4 separate regions of the Homo sapiens genome follow, and all the other regions are linked to region 2. The links come from fine-mapping of genetic effects on gene expression. A gene starts in region 2. Each other region holds a variant in brackets. All regions are shown on one strand. Distances are between the middles of the regions.

Evidence for each region.
Region 1: its variant is fine-mapped to the expression of NEDD9 in whole blood (TOPMed, PIP above 0.99).
Region 3: its variant is fine-mapped to the expression of NEDD9 in whole blood (INTERVAL, PIP above 0.99).
Region 4: its variant is fine-mapped to the expression of NEDD9 in whole blood (TOPMed, PIP 0.98).

The regions. Positions count from the first base shown.
Region 1 is chr6:11,347,455-11,352,654 of GRCh38, reverse strand. It overlaps a transcript of NEDD9 not described here. Among named protein-coding and RNA genes, the nearest start is that of NEDD9, 120 kb to the right of the region's middle. The variant C/G (reference allele first, on the strand shown) is at 2,143.
Region 2 is chr6:11,230,583-11,235,582 of GRCh38, reverse strand. It overlaps NEDD9 (neural precursor cell expressed, developmentally down-regulated 9), which reads left to right and starts at 2,915. Exons shown (of 7, transcript NM_006403.4): 1 at 2,915-3,079. The coding sequence starts at 3,068. LOC124901256 (a long non-coding RNA gene) reads left to right here and starts at 4,873. Exons shown (of 2, transcript XR_007059449.1): 1 at 4,873-5,000. RefSeq lists silencers at 2,828-2,877, 3,358-3,407.
Region 3 is chr6:11,169,041-11,174,240 of GRCh38, reverse strand. No RefSeq gene overlaps it. Among named protein-coding and RNA genes, the nearest start is that of ERVFRD-1, 60 kb to the right of the region's middle. RefSeq lists an enhancer at 1,391-1,685. The variant G/A (reference allele first, on the strand shown) is at 2,982.
Region 4 is chr6:11,204,253-11,209,452 of GRCh38, reverse strand. All of the region lies in intron 2 of NEDD9 (neural precursor cell expressed, developmentally down-regulated 9), which reads left to right. Among named protein-coding and RNA genes, the nearest start is that of NEDD9, 26 kb to the left of the region's middle. The variant G/A (reference allele first, on the strand shown) is at 1,999.

The sequences.
Region 1 (5,200 bases), 120 kb before region 2:
ATCACTTGCCTGAAGTCACACAAGTATTACATAATTCAGCCAAAATTTAAACTCTGGTCTTTCTGACTGGCAGGACCATTCCTTACCATGATGCCATGTTGCTGGTGGACATTAGGGTATCTAAACTAGGGTAGTCCTAGCTTCAGAGAAAGAAGCTGTATAAAGAAACCAAATGATTATGCTTGAGGCTTAACCAAAGCAATATAAAAAGTGTATGTTCTCAGGGGAATGGGCAAAACAGAAGAGAAAAAGGCCGGCCACCGAGCGGCTGTGGGTGAATGAGTTAACCAAAGAGCAAATGTCTGAGTTGGATCATGAAACAGCAGATCAAGTGGGCTCAGTGTCTGTAAACATCTACACTGCCCATGAGGACAAGATCTGTATGCTCCATCTACACCCAGAGGCTGAAGGAATGCCTGTGGTGTAGACAACTCACTTTTCTAGAGAAATGGAGAAGGGATTAGACATGTTAACCCTGAAGAAAAGGAAACTTGGGGTAGGGTAGGCTCAGAAAGTCTTCAGAGGTTGGGAACGTGGCCCATGAAAGAGCAGGGAGACTGGAAAGGGACCCTGCCTGTGGAGGCAGCTCTGGGCCCCACTTGAACACACACGGGTGAACCACTTGACCCACCTTACAGTGAAAGAAGCTGGCACCTGTGGACCACTGGAGAAACCTCAGTAGCCATCTGGTGTTCCCCAATGACTGTGTTGCTCACAACCCTCAAGAGTCCTTTGTTGCTTTTGGAATTGTAGGGCTGGCAAGATGTCTTCACCCACTGCTAGATTCATGGCTGAGGCCCCTATAATGAAGGACAGATGAACAAGAGAAGAACATACAAACGCATAGAATATAAGTTTTACATGACACAGAAGCCTTTGAGGGGAAATGAAGAACCAGAGAAACAGGGAAACCTGTGTATTTGCTATGCTCGATTGGATGAAGAGTGGACAGTCATGGAGAGGCATGACCGAGCAAAGCGGGTGATAACCTGGAGGGAATGTCACCACATCTGTTGGCTCAGATTCTCCTCTGTGTCCTTGTGTCTTCAGAAAAAGGATGTTCCTTTCCTCTGAGTATGCGGGCATCACTCACACCAGGGTCCAATGTCCTACTTCAGGGGAAAGTCAGGAAATCCTTCCTGGGACTGATGACCGGCCTCAGAGAGAAGGGTAGAACAAGGGAAGGTGAGAGTGGCCTTTCTGCTTTTGCTGTTTTCTCAAATGCCAATTTTCTATTTTCAGGGGCAATATGTCCTGAACCCCATCAGGATGAAGCCCCAGCTCCATGAAGCCCCTCTTGAACTGGTCCATCCTACTGTTCCAGTCTCAGCTCCCTCTGCTCCAGGCCTTGAACTTCACATTCCAGCCTGGGGACTCCTGGCAGTTCCCTAAATATGCAAAGAGCTCAGCTTTCTTTCCTGGTCCTGGTCCTGGTCACTTGGCCCTCTCTGTCTCTCCCTTCCTTCTTCCCATCTCTCTTCCTTTCTGGCTCATGTCCCTCGCACATGCTGTAAACTCTTCCTGGAACATCTCCCTTCCACCTGTGAATCTCTTGCCAGCTCACTTCTTTTCTCCCTTTAAGAATCCACTTCTCAAAAGAAAATGGCAACTCTGTGAGGTGATAGAAATGCTGATTCGCTTGATCATTGTGGCGTCCACAATGTATATATAAAACAAGTTGTACACATTACCATGTATAAATTTGTGTTTGTCGATTATATGTCAAGAAAGACAAGGAGGTGTGGAAAGACTGCACCTCTGTCAAGACGCCTTTCTGACCACCCCCCGACCCTGGTTGACACTCCCTGACATGAGCCCCCGAGTGTTTACCTACGCTATGTGTATCAGGGCATCCCGACCACTTGCTCACTCACCTGTCTCCCCACTGTGAGGTCAGCGGCAGGGCCTTGTTCAGTGTCTTAGTCATATCCCCTCCAGCACCCACCATGACCTCTGGCACTAAGTAGGGGCTCAATAAGCCAATCATTGTGTTGATGTACCAGTGACATTGAGGGAAGACCAAGCTCGCCGACCTCTAAGATCCTGTCCACTCTGAGAGTCTGTGAGTCTGTATTTCTGCTCCCACAGTTAGTCACGGAGGAAGTTGCCAAAGCAGATGATGAGACTTCTGTTTGGGGTTGC[C/G]CAGGTCTGCCTGGCCTTTGCAATTTGTAATCAGGTCCTTTGAAAGAGAAACTGAACTGAGAGAAAAACACAGTTTGGATGAGGCAAGAGTTGCAAAATAATGAGTTATGTAATGGTGATGGTGGCCTGTGGTAGCATCTTTGGCCCTGCCCAGATGATACAAGACTTTGTATGTATACCCTTGAGCATGGCCAAAAGGACAATTGTCAAAACCACGGCTTAAGTGTTCAAAAGCCTCTTTTCCCATAAGATGTTGCCTCTTGAGGTCAGACTGAAATCCTGTACCTGTAATAATTTCCTCCTTAGGACTGGATGTACATGAAAAGATTGGAGATATATATGTACCTTTTTTATATGCCATGTAAATGGTATAACCCTTGCACTCTTTGGCCATTAACAGCCAATTGTCAATTAGTTTATTGTGTATTAGATCAAACTGTATTGCCCAGGCCAGCTCCTGAAGAACTGTGAACTATGAACATCTCAGCCTAGAAGGATAATGTGACCTTCAATTTGCACACCATCCATTGTCTCTTTCAAACTAAGAGCCTCTCTAAGCTAGATAGGCCAAGGATTATTTTTTTAACTTTTATTTTAGGTTCAGGGGTACATATACAGGTTTGTTACATAGGTAACCTCATGTCATGAGGGATTTTGTATAGATTATTTGGTGACCCAGGTACTAAACCTAGTACCCATTAGTTGTTTTTTCTGCTCCTCTCCCTCCTCTCACCCTCCACCCTCAGTTAGTTCCCAGTGTGTGTTGTTTCCCCACATCTATCCATGTGTTCTTATTATTTAGCTCCCACTTATAAGTAAGAACATGCAGTGTTTGGTTTTCTGTTCCCGATTAGTATGCTGAGGATAATGGCTTCCAATTCCATCCATGTTTCTGCAAAGAACATGCTCTCATTCTTTAATATGGCTGCATAGCGTTCCATGGTGTGTATGTACCACATTTTCTTTATCCAGTCTATCATTGATGGCCATTGTGGTTGATTCCATGTCTTGGCTATTGTGAATAGTGCTACAATAAACATAACATGTGCATGTGTCTTTATGATGGAATGATTTCTATTTCTTTGGGTATATACCCAGTAATGGAATTGCTGGGTCAAAGGGTATGTCTGTCTTTAGGCCTTTGAGAAATCACCACGCTGCTTTCCACAATGGTTGAACTAATTTACACTCCCACCAATGGTATATAAGCATTCCCTTTTCTCCACAATCTTGCAAGCATCTGTTATTTTTTTATTTTTTGTTAATAGCCATTCTGACTGGTGTGAGATAGTATCTCATTGTAGTTTTGATGTGCCTTTCTCTAATGATTAGTGGCATTAAGCTTTTTTCATATGCTTGTTGGTCACATGTATGTCTTCTTTTGAAAAGTGTCTTTTTATGTCCTTTGCCAAATTTTTAATGGCGTTGTTTTTTCTTGTAAATTTGTTAAAGTTTCTTATGGGTTCTGGATATTAGACAGATGTAAGATGCATAGTTTGCAAATATTTTCTCCCATTCTGTAGGTCGTCTGTTCCCTATGGTGATAGTTTCTTTTGCTGTGCAGAAGCTCATTAGTTTAATTAGATCCCATTTGTCAATTTTTGCTTTTGTTGAGATTGCTTTTGGCATCTTTGTCATGAAATCTTTGCCAGTTCCTAAGCCCAGAATGGTATTGCCTAGGTTGTCTTTCAGGGTTTTTATAGTTTTGGGTTTTACATTTAACTCTTCAGTCCATCTTGAGTTGATTTTTGTATATAGTATAAGGAAGGGATCCAGTTTCAATCTTCTGTAAATGCCTAGCCAGTTATTCCAGCACCATTATTGAACAGGACTCCTTTCCCTGTTGCTTGTTTTTGTCAACTTTATCAAAGATCAGATGATTGTAGGTGCACAGCTTTATTTCTGAGCTCTCTATTCTGTTCCATTGGCCTGCGTGTCTGTTTTTGTACCATGCTGTTTTGGTTACTGTAGCCCTGTAGTATAGTTTGAAGTTGGGTAGTGTGTTACCTCCCGCTTTGTTCTTTTAACTTAGGATTGCTTTGGCAATTCAGACTCTTTTTTTGGTTCCATACTAATTTTTAAATAGTTTTTTCTAATTCTGTGAAGAATGTCATTGGTAGTTTGATAGGAATAGCATTGAATCTGTAAATTGCTTTGGGCAGTATGTCCATTTTAATGATGTTGATTCTTTCTATCTATGAGTATGGAATATTTTTCTATTTGTTTGTGTCATCTCTGATTTCTTTGAGCAGTGTTTTGTAGTTCTCATTGCAGAGATCTTTCACCTCCGTGGTTAGCTGTTTCCTAGGTATTTTATTCTCTTTGTAGCAGTTGTTAATGGGATTGTGTTCTGCTCTCAGCTTGACTGTTGTTGGTGTATAGGAATGCTCGTAATTTTTGTACATCAATTTTGTATCCTGAAACTTTGATGAAGTTGCTTATCAGCTCAAGGAGTGTTTGGGCAGAGACTATGGGGTTTTCTAGCTATAGGATCATGTCATCTGCAAACAGAGATAGACTTCCTCTCTTCCTATTTGGATGCCCTTTATTTCTTCTCTTGCCTGATTGCCCTGGCCAGAGCTTCCAATACTATGTTGCATAGGAGTGGTGAGAGAGGGCATCCTTGTCTTGCTCCAGTTTTCAAGGGGAATGCTTCCAGCTTTTGCCCATTCAGTGATGTGCTGGCTGTGAGTTTGTCACAGATGGCTCTTATTATTTTGAGGTATGTTTCTTCAGTACCTAGTTTGTTGAGAGTTTTTAACATGAAGGGATGTTGAATTTTATTGAAAGCTTTTTCTTCATCTATTGAGATGATCACGTGGGTCTTGTCTTTAGTTCTATTTGACCCATCACATTTATTGATTTGCACATGTTGAACAAGCCTTGAGTCCCAGGGATAAAGCCTACTTGATTGTGGTTGATTAGCTTTTTGATGGCTGCTGGAAAGGTTTGCTAGTATTTTGCTGAGGGCTTATGCATCAATGTTCATCAAGGATATTGGCCTGAAGTGGTTATTTTTGTTTGTTTGTTTTGTTTTGTTTTTCTTGTTGTGTCTCTG
Region 2 (5,000 bases):
AGCAATTTTCCCTGCTTAATTTTTCTTCATAGCATTTATCACTGCAAATCATATTATACATTCATTTAATTATTTTCCTCAACTCTCACTAGACTGTAAGCTCCATGAAGATGGGAACTTTGTCTGGGCTACTGCTGTATCCTCCCCTCCTAGAAAGGTACCTGGCACATGCTAGGTGCTCTAGTGATAACAGTTCAGTGAGAAAGCTGCCTTATGAAAGAATGGCACACAGAGAAGGGGTTCCTCCAACTTCTTCTGAATGCCTACCACACTTATCAACAGTAGTCTAATATTAATACTAGTTATAATTAATACAATAATTAAATAATAATCTATAGAATATAGCAATAATGTCATAAAATATTAACAAAATATCATAAATCTGATATTAATTAAAATAATAACTAATAACAACAGTAATAAGAACAAGCAACCATTTAAGGTCTTACAATGTAACAAGTACTATTAAATTCTATCCACATTATCTTATTTAATCCTCATTATGAGGCTAGCAGGTATTATTATTTTCTCTATTTCATACTGAAGGACATCAAAATTAAGAAGTTCAACTGGCCAGGCACAGTGGCCCACGCCTGTAATCCCAGCACTTTGGGAGACTGAAGCAGGTAGATCACCTGAGGTCAGGAGTTCGAGACCAGCCTGGCCAATCTGGTGAAACCCCGTCTCTACTAAAAATACAAAAAATTAGCCAGGTATGGTGGCAGACACATGTAATCCCAGCTACTCGGGAGGCTGAGGGAATTGCTTGAACCAGAGATGCGGGGATTGCAGTGAGCCGATATTGCACCACTGCACTCCAGCCTGGGCAACAAGAATGAAACTTTGTCTCAAAAAAAAAAAAAAAAAAAATTAAAAATGTTTTGAGGTTCCAGCACAGGTTTACCTGATTCCAACACCCTTGTGCTTTCCTTTAGGCAGCTAACTATATACTGACCCAAGCCTTCTTGAAATGAACTTCGGGTAGATTACATGTGTCTTACTTACCTTACAGGACAGAAACAGGAAAGCAGGAGGGCCACTAGCTAGAGAATGAAATTACAAAAAAACCCCAGCACAAACTTTAGGAAACTGTTTGAAAACATTAAAATAGGATGGGACAGCACTCACTTACTCAATGATATTCATCAAACAAAACAGAAAAAGGATTCAGCTTGACCACTTAGGAAGCCAAAGGAATGTTATCTAGATCTCTTGGAGGCCGCAAGACTCATCTTACAGATGGGAAGGGCTTTGAATCATTGTCCTCCTTTATCCAGGTAGACACCAAAAACAATTTCCTGCAAACTAACGACTCTCCGGTCAGTCTGCAGGATTCTTAAGGAGATCGTTACAATGCAATATGCTGCGTGCTTAATTTGTGTTCAGAAAGGCCTTGCACAATCACTCAGGCTTATTTTTGCTCTAAGGACAAATGAGGAGAAGCAAGGCCTAATACAGGCTGGAACAGGTATGTCAACCTCATTAGGATGGCCTGGGGGGTCATGTCCCTGGAATCAGTGCCACACTGAACTGCAAACTAACCTGCCAACCCTGTATCTGGAAACCACTTTTGTAGGACAGCTGTTCTCTCATTCCTTTTGCTTAGATCATAAAAGTAGAGTTTTCATCCATTGGGAATTTGTGTGTTAGACGCGAAGGGAATCAGATTCTGATCCAACTTGGTCAGGAAAAAAAAAAATAAGGGCTGATTTTTCCATCCAAGTCATGTAGTCTGGTTGGAGTGCATCCCACTCAGGGACAGCTATTGTCTGGATTCACCGAGTCTCAGTCTTGCCCGGGAAAAAGGAATTTTTCGCCTCACTGCTCTGTCCGTGAGAAGAGTTGCAGAAGGTGACCATTTCTGTTTTCTGGGTGATTCTCTTTCTCTATAGAAATCCTAAAATGGAACCTTTATAGAAATTATGTTCTGTGCTTCGCTGGAGAGAGACTGGTCTTTTTAACCAGGCTCATCAAACAGTGGGCATTTTCGTTCTCCTGGATAATAAGTGTTGGTGGGTTAATGGGTCATCCTCAGGACAGAGGTCAGAAGGAAAAACACTGCAGTGTTCAAAGCTGGAGCTAGAAATGCCAGCCGTCAAAGAACACAGAACTCAGTGGACGGTGATGATGTATAGGGCGTGCACTGGCCAACCCCATCCGAGAGGTCACATCTAACCTTTATCCTCAGCAAAGCCACTGAAGGTCGCTCAATATGTGTGACCCGCAACTCTGAGGCCCTGGTGAGAAGCTGTCCAGGAAAACGCTGGTGCGTGTGCTAGAGGGTTCCTTTTCACTAAGGGAGAATTGTCTTCCAGCTCCTTGCAGACTGACATCGCAAAGTACTTTGAACGTTGAAAAGAACAAAAAAAGCAAACAGTCACACACACACAAAAAGTAGGCGGGAGGAGGGGGAAAGAAAAAGGGACAGAGAGAGAGAGAGGTATCAGCAGGGGTGGTTAGTAAAAAGGGGCCCGGAGACAGAAAACCTTTTGTTCCCGGAGTTCGTTTCATGTAGAGATTGTGAGGTGAATGGCTTTGAAACGAAATGGGTTTATGAAGGAGTTGCTAGGTCACAGGAAGCGCGACTGTCAGACTGCTTTTGTGAATTCAGTTTCTTTAAAATTTGGGTTAATCTTAAAAAGAATGTATCTCCTTTTCCTGTTCTTTCTCTTTCTGTCTTCTTTTTTGGCGGGGGCGGGAGGACAGAGTAAGGTTCAGGACGGTTCCCCACTTTCTGTTTTATTTTCCACCGTCTGATAAAGCAAAAAGAAGCGATCACATTACAAGTTCTTTGTCAGTTTTTCAGAATTAGGGGTGGGCAGGGCCTGAGCATTACCTTGTCCCACTAGCCAATGGCGGGGCGGCATGCAAATGAGGTCCGCGATCAGCCTGCCTCAGTCACAACAGTGAGCTCAGAGACTTGAGGGAGGCGCTGCGACTGACAAGCGGCTCTGCCCGGGACCTTCTCGCTTTCATCTAGCGCTGCACTCAATGGAGGGGCGGGCACCGCAGTGCTTAATGCTGTCTTAACTAGTGTAGGAAAACGGCTCAACCCACCGCTGCCGAAATGAAGTATAAGGTAAGAGAGTGCCTTTTACAGGTTACCTTGCAAGCTGAAAGCTGTGCCTGCGGGTGTGTGCTTGTGTATGCGTGTTCCTTACTGTCAGTCCCTTGTGTGTCCCGGAGAGTTCTAAGATGAGTCTCGGTCACTGAGGTTGACATGCAAGCAGACAAGCAAGCAGAGACCCGGTCTTTGAGACCCACTCCAGGGGTTCACAGTACACCCGAGTCCATCTGCTCTGAAAGTTGCCGGGGAAATACCTCGGTGAGAAGTTAAGACTTGGAGCCGCTTCACAGCAGCCACTGGAGATCAGAGGGTGTCTGACTTGAATCGCGGCAGGCATTGGCTCAAGTCTCCTTGGCTTCCCCAGGCCTGGCTTCCACTGCCCTGGGGAACTGTAATGAGAGGAATGAGGACTGCATAGTCTGTCTCAGACTGGCTCTTAGTGCAAAGTTTTCCAGACTTTGCTTTAATCGTTTGGTCTCGGAAGGAGTATGCCATATGCACTTTTGGTGGGAGAAATTAAAAGCCCAGATTACACAGCTGAGGATGGAAAATTTTGACATCCTTATGTTATATTGGATGTAGGAATAAATAAGTATGAGCCATTTCTTGAAAACATTTTTATTGGAGTTTGAATGGGGTGAGAGTGCGAAGGCTCAGGCTGGCTCATTGTGCCTGAAAGCTTACAGAGTGTCATAGTCATAGTACTTCAGCAGCATTATTTTCCAATGCATTTTACACCATTGTTTGTGGATTTTTCTTGCCAAAAGGATTTTTGACTTGCTCCGTATATTCCCCCCTCCCCTTTTTCTTTTAAGTCACTCCCATCTAAGGAGGCAAGCAGCTTCCAGGGGACACAAAGAAAGCAGACTGCAATGAATTGGACATGAATTTTTCTTGAATGATGAATAGACATGAGTGCTAGTGCTACTATTTTATTTTATGCTATTTTAAACAAAAGTGTTATTATTAAGATGGATTTGGGCAAGGGTGCTAGGCTTGTGGATTGACAATTTATATTAACTGTACACTAGCTGGAAGCTACTTCGCTTTTTTTCTAAATTTTTCTGGTCCATCCTTTTTTGATGTAAGGTTGTAAATACTTGGTCTAACTGATAGCCACTGACTAGCCTCAGTAATAAAGCTTTTGTTCAAAAACTATGAATCTTATTCAAAAGCTTTAAGTCTAAATGTCAAAAGTCTTTATAGTAATGCCTACGTTACCACTGTCTGAAGACACAGGTATCAGCTATTTCTGTTTCATCAGCTTTCTATTATCTTCATCAGTAGGGAAGATCAGAGGAAAGGGTCATCCTGAAGACTATTAATATTTGACTTTAGGATGCAACCAGAAACAAATCCCTCTACTTGGCAGGAAAGTTATCTTCCTTAAAGTGGCTCACCCCATATTTCCTTATTTAGAACAATGATAGGACCAGATATTACTCAGCCTGGAGTGACTTTTTTGCTCCTCCTTTCCCTGTTGTTGAATAAGAACTGGCTTGCAGAAAAAAGAGAAAGTATGTTCATATGTCTATTATTGGAAAGTATAAATGGCTGAAATTAACATTGAGTGCTATAATCTAGAAAGTGACGAAAGCGACAAAGTCTCAAGTCACTTTTATTCAATGATCTCATCGTGGTTAGCTTTACTCTTTATGGAAAGAAAATCTAAAGGCAACTGATAAAGTGACTGACAGCGTAAACTGCGATTGGCATTCATGGAGAAACCTGCTTCTCCACTGGGCCTTACTGGTGTTGAACACCTTGCCAAATGATGTAAATACATGATTTTTATTACCTTGTAGGCACCTTCACCAGCAAAAAAGCTAACTTCTCCGACCGAACACATGACTTATGCCCTATGATGACTATTAAATCAACCAATAGCTGAAGAAATCCACTTTCCTTTTTTATAAAGTTTTCTTTCTCTCTA
Region 3 (5,200 bases), 61 kb after region 2:
ATAGTTCTAGGCCAGGCACGGTGGCTCACGCCTATAATCCCAGCACTTTGGGAGGCCAAGGCGGGGGGATCATGAGGTCAGGAGTTCAAGACCAGCCTGGCTAACATAGTGAAATCTGTCTCTACTAAAAATACAAAAATTAGCCAGGCATGGTGGCGGGAGCTTGTAGTCCCAGCTACTCAGGAGGCTGAGGCAGGAGGATCGCTTGAACCTGGGAGACGAAGGTTGCAGTGAGCCAAGATCGCACCACTGCACTCCAGCCTGGGCAACAGAGTGAGACTCAGAAAAAAAAAAAAAAAAAAAAAGAACGAACGAACGAAGGAAAGAAGAAAAGAAAGAAAAAAAGAGAGAAAGAAAAGAAAGAAAGAAAGAAAGAAAAAGGAAAAGAAAGAAGGAAGGAAAGAAACAAAGAAAGAAAGAAAAGGTTTTAATGAGTAGAGGCCAGCCTGCAGGGGGAGAAACCTCTACAAGGGCAACTGAAAAGCTTCAGCACACTGACTGACCTTCATCTCAGACTCAACTATTACCAATCTCTAAAGCAAATTCCTCTGCAGCCTGGGAGGGGGCATTGAGGGGCAGGAACCACCACCATACCTCACAGCATGATTTAAGTCATCTCCCAACAACTATAATTAAGAAAACTGAGTTAACAAAAAGGGCACCTTACTTTGTCTCCTAACTGTCAATTTTCCAGAGAGACAAGAGTCAGCAGGGAATGATGTTAAATGAAAACATACCCCTAATTTTCTCTGGCCTGCCTGGCAGTCAGGAGACCACCAGACACCAGACATTGTCTATCCCCCACACAGCCCCTCACCCAGTCATCATCCAAGCGCAGTTTATGAGCCTTCTTTATGACCCAGGCAGCCTAACGGGTTTTTTTTTCAGAACCATCTGGGCCCTTTGTGACTTAAATTCCTATTAAAGAAGTTGAAGTCTCCAAGAACAATGGTTGTGAATGAGACATTTTAAACAGTGGTCAGAGAAGTAACTTATTTCAGCCTTGCCCAATGTTAAAATATCAAGACAAAGGGCTGGTGTGGGTGTATTTTTAGAATGATGTAAAGATGTAAATGGACAACTTAGTGAAGGCTGTCCTTGCCCTTGGGCAATTATTTCTACCTCTCTGTCTAGACATCCAGTCTACACTGGAAAGGACCTACGATTTGACAAAAGAAGGTTTTGGATAAATAATGGGTCCCCCAATCCTGTTTGCAAAAGAAAAATCAACAAGCAAGAAAACAAAAGATCTGCAAAGAGCACTGAGAAGGGGACATGTAGGGACCTGTATGCAGAGGAGAGCGCTCTAGAGAAAAGTTACTAGGTCCTCTGCCCCTTGCAAAGGGGAGTGAACTTGTGGGTGTTTACACGTACCAGGTGGCTTCCCGTTGAAAGGGGGCCCCCAGAAATCCTTTAGAGCGCTGACAGTGCAAATAGCTAGCACCTATTCAGCTCAGGCAACAAGGTCTTTGGGCACCACCTAGGATGTTTTGAAGCCCCTCACGCAGCGACCAGCATTTTGCAGATCTAAGGCTGTGTTCGCCTCGCACGGCGCCCCCTTGTGGTCTGATGGGAAATGAAAGGTGGAGGACAATTGGTTTTTACAACCGATTTCATCTCTAACGTGCCTGGGAAATAGGAATGCTAGTGCAGACCTGATTCGCTGTTGTGAAAATAAGCATTCAAAATAATTCTTAAGCGCTCCACAACCACGTAGCAGTACGATTACTTCCTTGCTGCACATCTCCCTAGCCTCTTGTATATTTCAGACACAGGGCATCTTGGACCATGAGTTCATCTTTCCCATCTCACTACCTAACTAACACAAAGAGTTCAATTCATGTTTGTTGACTGGCTAACTGAACCCAAAGGAATGAATCCACCTCCAAGCTCCTCCACCCCCATCCCACATTGGAGGATCCTTTTTTTTTTTTTTTAAACGGAGTCTGCCTCAGACACTCAAGACTGGACTGCAGTGGAGCTGTGTCCGGAATTGGTGGGTTCTTGGTCTCACTGACTTCAAAAATGAAGCCGCGGATCCTCGCGGTGAGTGTTACAGTTCTTAAAGGCAGCGTGTCTGGAATTTGTTCCTTCTGATGTTCGGATGTGTTCAGAGCTTCTTCCCTCTGGTGGGGTTTGTGGTCTCACTGGCGCATGAGTGAAGCTGTGGACCTTCGCAGTGAGTGTTACAGCTCTTAAGGCTGCCCGTCTGGAGTTGCTCGTTCCTCCCAGTAGGTTCGTGGTCTTGCTGGTTTCAGGAGTGAAGCTGCAGACCTTCACAGTGAGTGTTATAGCTCATAAAGGCAGTGTGGACCCAAAGACTGAGCAGTAGCAAACTTCACTGCAAAAAGCAAAAGAACAAAGCTTCCACAGCGTGGAAAGACACCCGTACAGAAAAGTACCCGAGCGGGTTACCACTGCTGGTGCAGGCAGCCTGCTTTTATTCTCTTATCTGGCCACACCCACATCCTGCTGATTGGTCCATTTTACAGAGAGCCGAGTGGTCTGTTTTGACAGGGCGCTGATTGGTGCGTTTACAATCCCTGAGCTAGACACAAAGGTTCTCCACCTCCCCACTAGATTAGCTAGATACAGAGTGTGGACACAAAGGTTCTCCAAGTCCCCACAAGAGTAGCTAGATACAGAGTGCCGATTGGTGTATTTACAATCCCTTAGCTAGACATAAAGGTTCTCCAAGTCCCGCCCAGACTCAGGAGCCCAGCTGGCGTCACCCAGTGGATCCCGCACGGGGCCGCAGGTGGAGCTACCTGCCAGTCCCGTGCGGTGTGCGCGCACTCCTCAGCCCTTGGGTGGTCGATGGGACTGGGCGCCGTGGAGCAGGGGCGCCGCTCGTCGGGGAGGCTCGGCCGCACAGGAGCTCACGGGCGTGGGGGAGAGGCTCAGGCATGGCAGGCTGCAGGTCCCGAGCCCTGCCCCGCAGGGAGGCAGCTAAGGCCCGGCGAGAAATCGAGAACAGCGCC[G/A]GTGGGCCAGCACTGCTGGGGGACCCAGCACACCCTCCGCAGCCGCTGGCCCGGGTGCTGAGCCCCTCATTGCCCGGGGCTGGCAGGCCGCTCCGAGTGCGGGGCCCACCGAGCCCACACCCACCCGGAACTCACGCTGGCCCGCAAGCACCGCGCGCAGCCCCGGTTCCCGCCCGCCCCTCTCCCTCCACACCTCCCTGCAAGCTAAGGGAGCCGGCTCCCGCCTCGGCTAGCCCAGGAAGGGGCTCCCACAGTGCAGCGGTGGGCTGAAGGGCTCCTCGAGTGCCGCCGAAGTGGGCGCCAAGGCCGAGGAGGTGCTGAGAGTGAGCGAGGGCTGTGAGGGCTGCCAGCAGGCTGTCACCTCTCAGCGCCATCTCGGCTCACCGCAACTTGTGCCTCCTCACTGCTTTAGCCTCCCGAGTAGCTTGGATTACAGGCTCCTGCCACCACGTCCCCCTGATTTTTGTATTTTTAGTAGAGACGGGGTTTCACCATGTTGGCCAGGCTGGTCTTGAACTCCTGACCTCAAGTGATCCGCCTGCCTCGGCCTCCCAAAGTGCTGGCATTACAGGCGTGAGCCACCACGCCTGGCTTGGAGGAGCCCTTTAAAGGAAAAAGAACATTGCAGGATCCTTAACAATAACTAAAAATAAAATTCCTTCAAAAGGCAGGATGTAGTGCCCATGAGTTACTGTTGTATTGTTTCCCCTTTATATAACCTTTTTCCACAATTACTTTAGTAACTTTGGTTGTTCTCGTTGAATGTCTATGTGATTTCTCTGCTGTAAGCTCCTGAGGTTGGATTTGCGCTGCACAGCAGATCCCTACAAGTCCCCTTCTCAGTGTTCCTTGAAGATCTTTTGTTTTATTGCTTGTTTCATAGTTCCCCGGGTGATCTCAGCTGCAATATACTCCTTTGCAAAGTTGCTGTAACCAGGCCAAAACCTGTCCCTAGATTTAGAATCCATGGTTTGGGATGACTGTGACGTTAATCACCCCATGCTCTCTGTCAACATGACCCAACACTTTCAGTACATCCCATCCTCATCCTCAGATCCTCATCCTCAGATCTTCAGCACTTACAGCATCTATAGGCCTTTCAACCATTGCACCAGCAAGCAAAACAACAATTATAGAGAAAATGGACAGAAGGCGAAACAAAAGAAAAGTTTTATGATCAATGAGCAAATTATAGGCAAACGTATTCATATTTAAGCATCAGGGGATATTTCATTTGTCCTGAGTAATTGATATGCTTTTTCTCATGGAAACAAGATTTTTGCAATTAACTGATCATGTTTTCCTTTACTGTAAAGGTCAGAGACAAATTTGATGCCCAATATCAGTAACTAGTAACTTATGGGTCCATCTGGGTTTTACATTTTCTCTCCATACCATCTTTTCTACCTAAATTATTCCTCAAAATTATTCCTCATCCTCTCTTTTTTAGCTACTATCTTTTTTTTTTTTTTTTTTCCTGAGATGGAGTCTCACTCTGTCGCCCAGACTGGAGTACAGTGGCACGATCTTGGCTCACTGCAACCTCTGCCTCCAGGGTTCAAGCGATTCTCTTGCCTCAGCTTCCCAAGTAGCTGGGACTACAGGTGCACACCACCACACCCAGCTAATTTTTAAAAAAATATTTTTGGTAGAGACAGGGTTTCACTATGTTGGCCAGGCTGGTCTCAAACTTCTGACCTCAAGTGATCCGCCCACCTCAGCCTCCCAAAGTGCTGGGATTACAGGCATGAGTCACTGCGCCCAGCCTTTAGCTACTATCTTTGATTACATGTGATTAGCCACATGTGAGAGCTCTGATGCTCTCTGAATGTATAAAGAAGCATGGGCTCTGCTCCTCCGTGTGCTGAGCCAATATGTTCCACAGTAGAAAGGGAGGGGCTCCAGAACTGCGGCTCATAGCAAGTTTTCTTCCATATACATCCACCACCAGGGTGCCAGGTGGAACAACTTCATCTGTTGGCAATTTCACACCCTAAATCAATCTTTCCTTGCAACTTCCCCCTGCCTCTGGTGTGAAACTGGCCCAGACTTCCATCTCTGCCATTATCAATCTCCCCTCCAGAAACCAATGCCCTTCCCAGAAATCCGGCATCAGACATGTTTTTATATGTTTGACCCTCAAAGACAGAAGTCAGGGTTAGGATTCCATTTCTTTTTCATTCAGGAGGCACCTCTGCCACTTTGTAATATCATCAATG
Region 4 (5,200 bases), 26 kb after region 2:
GTTTTTTGAGTGTGTGGCTTTCTCTTTGGTTCTGCAAGAATTCTGCAAAGGGTGGAAAAAAACTCTCCAAGTTATCTGAAAACCATATACGCTGACACCTTTACTTAATTTCATTGGTCTTTTTCACTCTGTGTTTTGTGCACAGGGCCGTTTTATCCATTAGGCGTTGTAGGCAATATGCCCAGTGCCTATAAGAATGTTTGGGAGCTGAATAAAAGATCTTTTGACTCCAAAATATGAAACACAAAAACTGCAAAATAGAAATTAATAAACATTTAGGTCAATGTCTAGGAAACCATATCATGTCTGCCCCATTAATTGTTTTATTTAGGGCTTATAACTATTTCATCATATTAGAAAACAGTATGTAGGTTATATTTTTCTCACTTTGCAAAGATTTCTAAATATGCATCATGGTTGCCAAGAACCCACAGGCAATCCTAAATTAAATAAGTTACTCATAGTCGAATAATTTGAAAAACTGAATTATAAAGGAAGAAAAAAAGTTTTCAATTTTTAACAGCAAAAATTCTACTTAATATGGGATTATGGTTTGGGGTAAATGAAATCTACAAATGTTCAAAACCAAAAGCCTAAAAAGATCTAAAATAGTCTCATTTCTCTGCTTCAAAGATCAGTGAAATTGCTACCTGAGTTCATCCATTTCACAGTTGATCTGCATGGGAAATTATATGTGCTTCTCTGATTTTTCTTTGGATGTGTCGCTTTTATTCTAACTGCTGGAACTATTTGTTGTACCTCTTTCTGAAGATCAGTTTGGGGCTAAATTACAAGCTCCATCAGCACAGGGGCCATGGCTGCCTCCTGACTGCTGTAGGCTGAGCACTTGGTAGAGCATCAGCCCACAGATAGCAGCCCAGTGAACCAATGAACAGGTGGAAGCAAGAATCAAAGTGTTAAATGAGAGTTAACCTTTAATTAACTGAAAGGTGGTTCTGATCTTATCACACATCCACCCTCACACGCTGCTGCTCGAATCCCATGGTTCAGCTCATTACCATCTGGTATGAGAGGTGTCAGATTATATACAGTCATTTCCCTCGCTGAAGGACCTTCCAGAATGTCACTGCCTGTGTCCTGTAAGGGTAACTATTCATATACAATCAATGAGCACCTTGATGCAAAGCATGAGTGATGTAAAGAAGGGCTTATCTGAGAGTTTAACTTCTGTGCATTTTGCCCAATTTAGACAAGATTAGTTAACTCCTCTGTGGTCACCTAAGGAGGAAAACTAGGCTTTTTTTTTTTTTTTTTGAGTCAGGGTCTCGCTCTGTCACCCATGCTGAAGTGCGGTGGTGCCATCTCGGCTCACTGCAACTTCTGGCTCCTGGGTTCAAGCGATTCTCATTCCTCAGCCTGCCCAGTAGCTGGGACTATAGGCATGCGCTACCAAGCCTGGCTAATTTTTGTGCTTTTAGTAGAGACGGGGTTTTGCCATGTTGGCCAGGCTGGTCTTGAACTCCTGGCCTCAGGTGATATGCCCGCTTCAGGTTCCCAAAGTGCTGGGATAATAGGCATGAGCCACTGCGCCTGGCCTAACTTTTTCTACTGAGGGGCAGAACTTCCTTTGCATATGTTATGATTTACCTAGAATGCCTTTCCCTTCTATTTTCCCTGTGAACTCCTATCCATTCTTTAAAACCCACTCCAAGGTTCATCCCCCTCATGAAGCTTCCTCTCTGCAACCCAGCAGTTTCTCCCTTCCCTATGGTCCCAGAATGTGTTGTATATTCCATTGATCTCAAGGGCTTCTTAAAAATGGAATGGTCTGCCATTGCAATGTGTGTGATGGTCTGGACTGGGGTAAGTATTGCTTTGAGGTGGCACTTGGAAAACTGAAGTAATATTCAGATTTACCAAGATCCTATGACATCATCTTTAAGGACCATTTTCTACCTTCCAAAATGGGTCACGGCCAAATGTTGGCAGGAAATGATTCAAAGGTTTTAGCCAGGTCTTCCAGGCCCATTCCTGAAA[G/A]GTAATGTAAGAAACAGAAATAGATTAGCTACAATGTTTGTACCTTCCTAGACACTGAGTCATCACAAATTACACACATACACGTACATACACATACACATACACACACACAGACACCCATAAGCTGTTGGCTAAGGAACAAGGACTTCCCTTATTGGAATTTGAGGCATTGTGCAATCTGGTTGCCCAGAGCGACACTCAGATACTAGCCAACTAAGTGCTATATATTAGCAGCATGACTTGTCTAACAACAAGCAAAAAATAGGTTTAGAGGAAATGAAAGCTTCCAGAAAAGTTAAATTCTGACTTCACCTCACTTTCTCCTGTTCCTTGCCTATACACACACAAAATACGTACACACCCAAAAAATACTCCTAGGGCAGAGGGTACTTCGGTTTCCTCATTTATAAATCAATAAAGTACAACTATGTTCCAGAATTGTACATTTCTACATAAAGATAATCCTAATGTATATGAATTGTTTGCCTCGATACATGGGTTTTGGGGCTATGCAGAGAACTGTACTTGCCATCTAAAATGTCACCCCTGAAGTTTCAAGATACATTTTAATATTACACAAAACTGGAGGTCATTCAGCTCTTGAAGGGCAGGACTTTATGAGCTCACTTTGAAAATGAGAAGTTATCTTTTCTCAGACAAGTCACCCGAGCCAAAGCAATGAGCAAACTCTAACACCCCTCCTTAAAAATTAACAAAGGTCCTTTTTGTTTGGCCAGTGCCAAAGCCTTCAAACTCAGTTGCACTTCGTTCTAAATTTTATAGATAATGCATATTTCTAAGAGTGCATTAGTAACTTCTTATAAACCCACACCAAAGCAAACAGAGGTTAACCCTCCTTTTTCAATGATTTCATGCTAAATGACTGTGCTTATCAGAGTGAAGAGGTAAGAGACTGCTTTAATATGATGTCTGGCTAAGTAGGAGAACACTGTGAGAGAGAGAAAACAGAATAAATTTATTTATTTAATTTCATGATAAACAATATTCGTTGAACACATCTTTTTTTTTATTTTTGAGATGGAGTTTCACTCTTGTTGTCCAGGCTGGAATGCAATGGCGCAATCTTGGCTCACTGCAACCTCCGCCTCCCAGGTTCAAGCGATTCTCCTGTCTCCGCCTCCCAAGTAGCTGGGATTACAGGTGCCCACCACCTTGCCCGGCTAATTTTTGTATTTTTAGTAGAGACGGGGTTTCATCATATTGGTCAGGCTGGTCTCAAACTCCTGATCTCAGGTGATCTGCCCACCTCGGCCTCCCAAAGTGCTGGGATTACAGACATGAGCCATCACGCCCGGCCTGGTTGTACAAATCTTTAAAAAAAGACTTGCTTGACTACATTGTGCAAAATGCAGAACTAGAAACTGTCAGCAATCAAAAGCACTTCATTCTAACTAGCTGTGCCTTAAACGTTGTCAAGATAACTTCTAGAGAGATGTGCTGCTCCTGTTTAAAGTGTGTCAGTGCCACTCACATAGGACAATGTGTGTTCCTCAAAAGTCGGATGTAGGTCGGGCGCAGTGGCGCATGCCTGTAATTCCAGCACTTTGGAAGGCCGAAGTGGGTAGATCACCTGAGGTCAGGAGTTTGCAACCAGTCTGACTGATACCATGAAACCCCGTCTCCACTAAATACAAAAAAATTAGCCAGGCATGGTGGTGCATGCCTGTTAATCCGAGTTACTTCGGAGGCTGAGACAGGAGAATCGCTTGTACCTGGGAGGCAGAGGTTGCAGTGAGCTGAGATCACGCCATTGCACTCCAGCCTGGGCAACAAGAGCAAAACTCTGTCTCAAAAAAAAAAAAAAGTAGGATGTAACTCCAGTAACATTTGAAGAGTGCCAAGGAGTCCTCTCTTTAAAGGGATCCTACAGTATATCAGTTTTTTGAAGCAAAGAAGCCTTTAGCAATGCCACAATCGCCTCTGATTTATTTGATTAATTTTTGTAATACTTGGTTTTCTTAAAGCATGGCACACTTAAACCAGTTATTTATTGGAATAGTTTTTGTTTTCAAAGTCACTACCAATTGAATGTGCAGCCTTCACTGGTGTCATTACCCCATGCTTCCGTCTCATTTTGCAAGATAGTGTTAGAACTAAAGTGGGGGTGACCCCAAGGCGCCTTGAGCCTTGGCTCCATGTTAGGGATCCCATAGAGGTACTACCACCTGATCCTCTCCACAGCCTCGTGAGGTGCACCTCACAGCATTTGCTGTTCAGAGGAGGGAACTGAGGTCTGAGAAGGAAATTCACTTGCTGAAGTTAACTTGCTGCCTCCAGTGAGAGGCAGGATTGATATTTGAGCCCACGTCTGTCTGACTCCAATGCTAATGATTTTTACATCCCGGCTGAAGGATGATATTGCCAAGCCCTTAAAGAAGAAGGCATATTTGGACACCTCATTAGCAATTTGGGCGCTAAATCATACCCTGTTGGCCAGGAAGAATTAAAGTTGCTGCCCAGGGCTCCCACCTCAGGTCCAGGGAGTAGCCTCAATACTGAGGGAATCTGAATTAAGGAGCTTGGAAGTTCCCCCCACCTAGCTGTAGTGGGCAGTTTCAGAGTGGGCTGATCCAGGAGTCCTGACCAGGTCAGTAGGGTGATGTCTAGACTCCAGTACCACTGAGAATGTTGCTATGTTGGCTTTCTCTGCCACACAGAAAAGTCTTTTCTTTCCTTTTCTTTTCTTTCTTTCTTTCTTTTTTTTTTTTTTTTTTGAGACGGACCCTCCCTCTGTTGACCAGGCTGGAGTGCAGTGGCACAATCTCGGCTCACCACAACCTCCGCCTCCTGGGTTCAAGTGATTCTCCTGCCTTAGCCTCCCGAGTAGCTGGGACTATGGGTGCGCACTACCATGCCTGGCTAATTTTTGTATTTTTAGTAGAGACAAAGTTTCACTACGTTGGCAAGGCTGGTCTCAAACTCCTGACCTCGTGATCTGCCCACCTCGGCCTCCCAAAGTGCTGGGATTATAGGCGTGAGCCACCACGCCTGGCCTAAGACTGTCTTTCCAAATGACTTCAAATTCCTTCAAATGGGTAACTTCATTTAACCAGGTGGGGGCACCTCCCAAAACACAAGTTACCCAGCTTTCAAGTTGTGGCTCTCATATAAGGAAGTAACTTTCTTTGAGAGTATTTACTTGTGAAATTATAAAAGTAGTAAATTTCTGGAAAATGTCTAA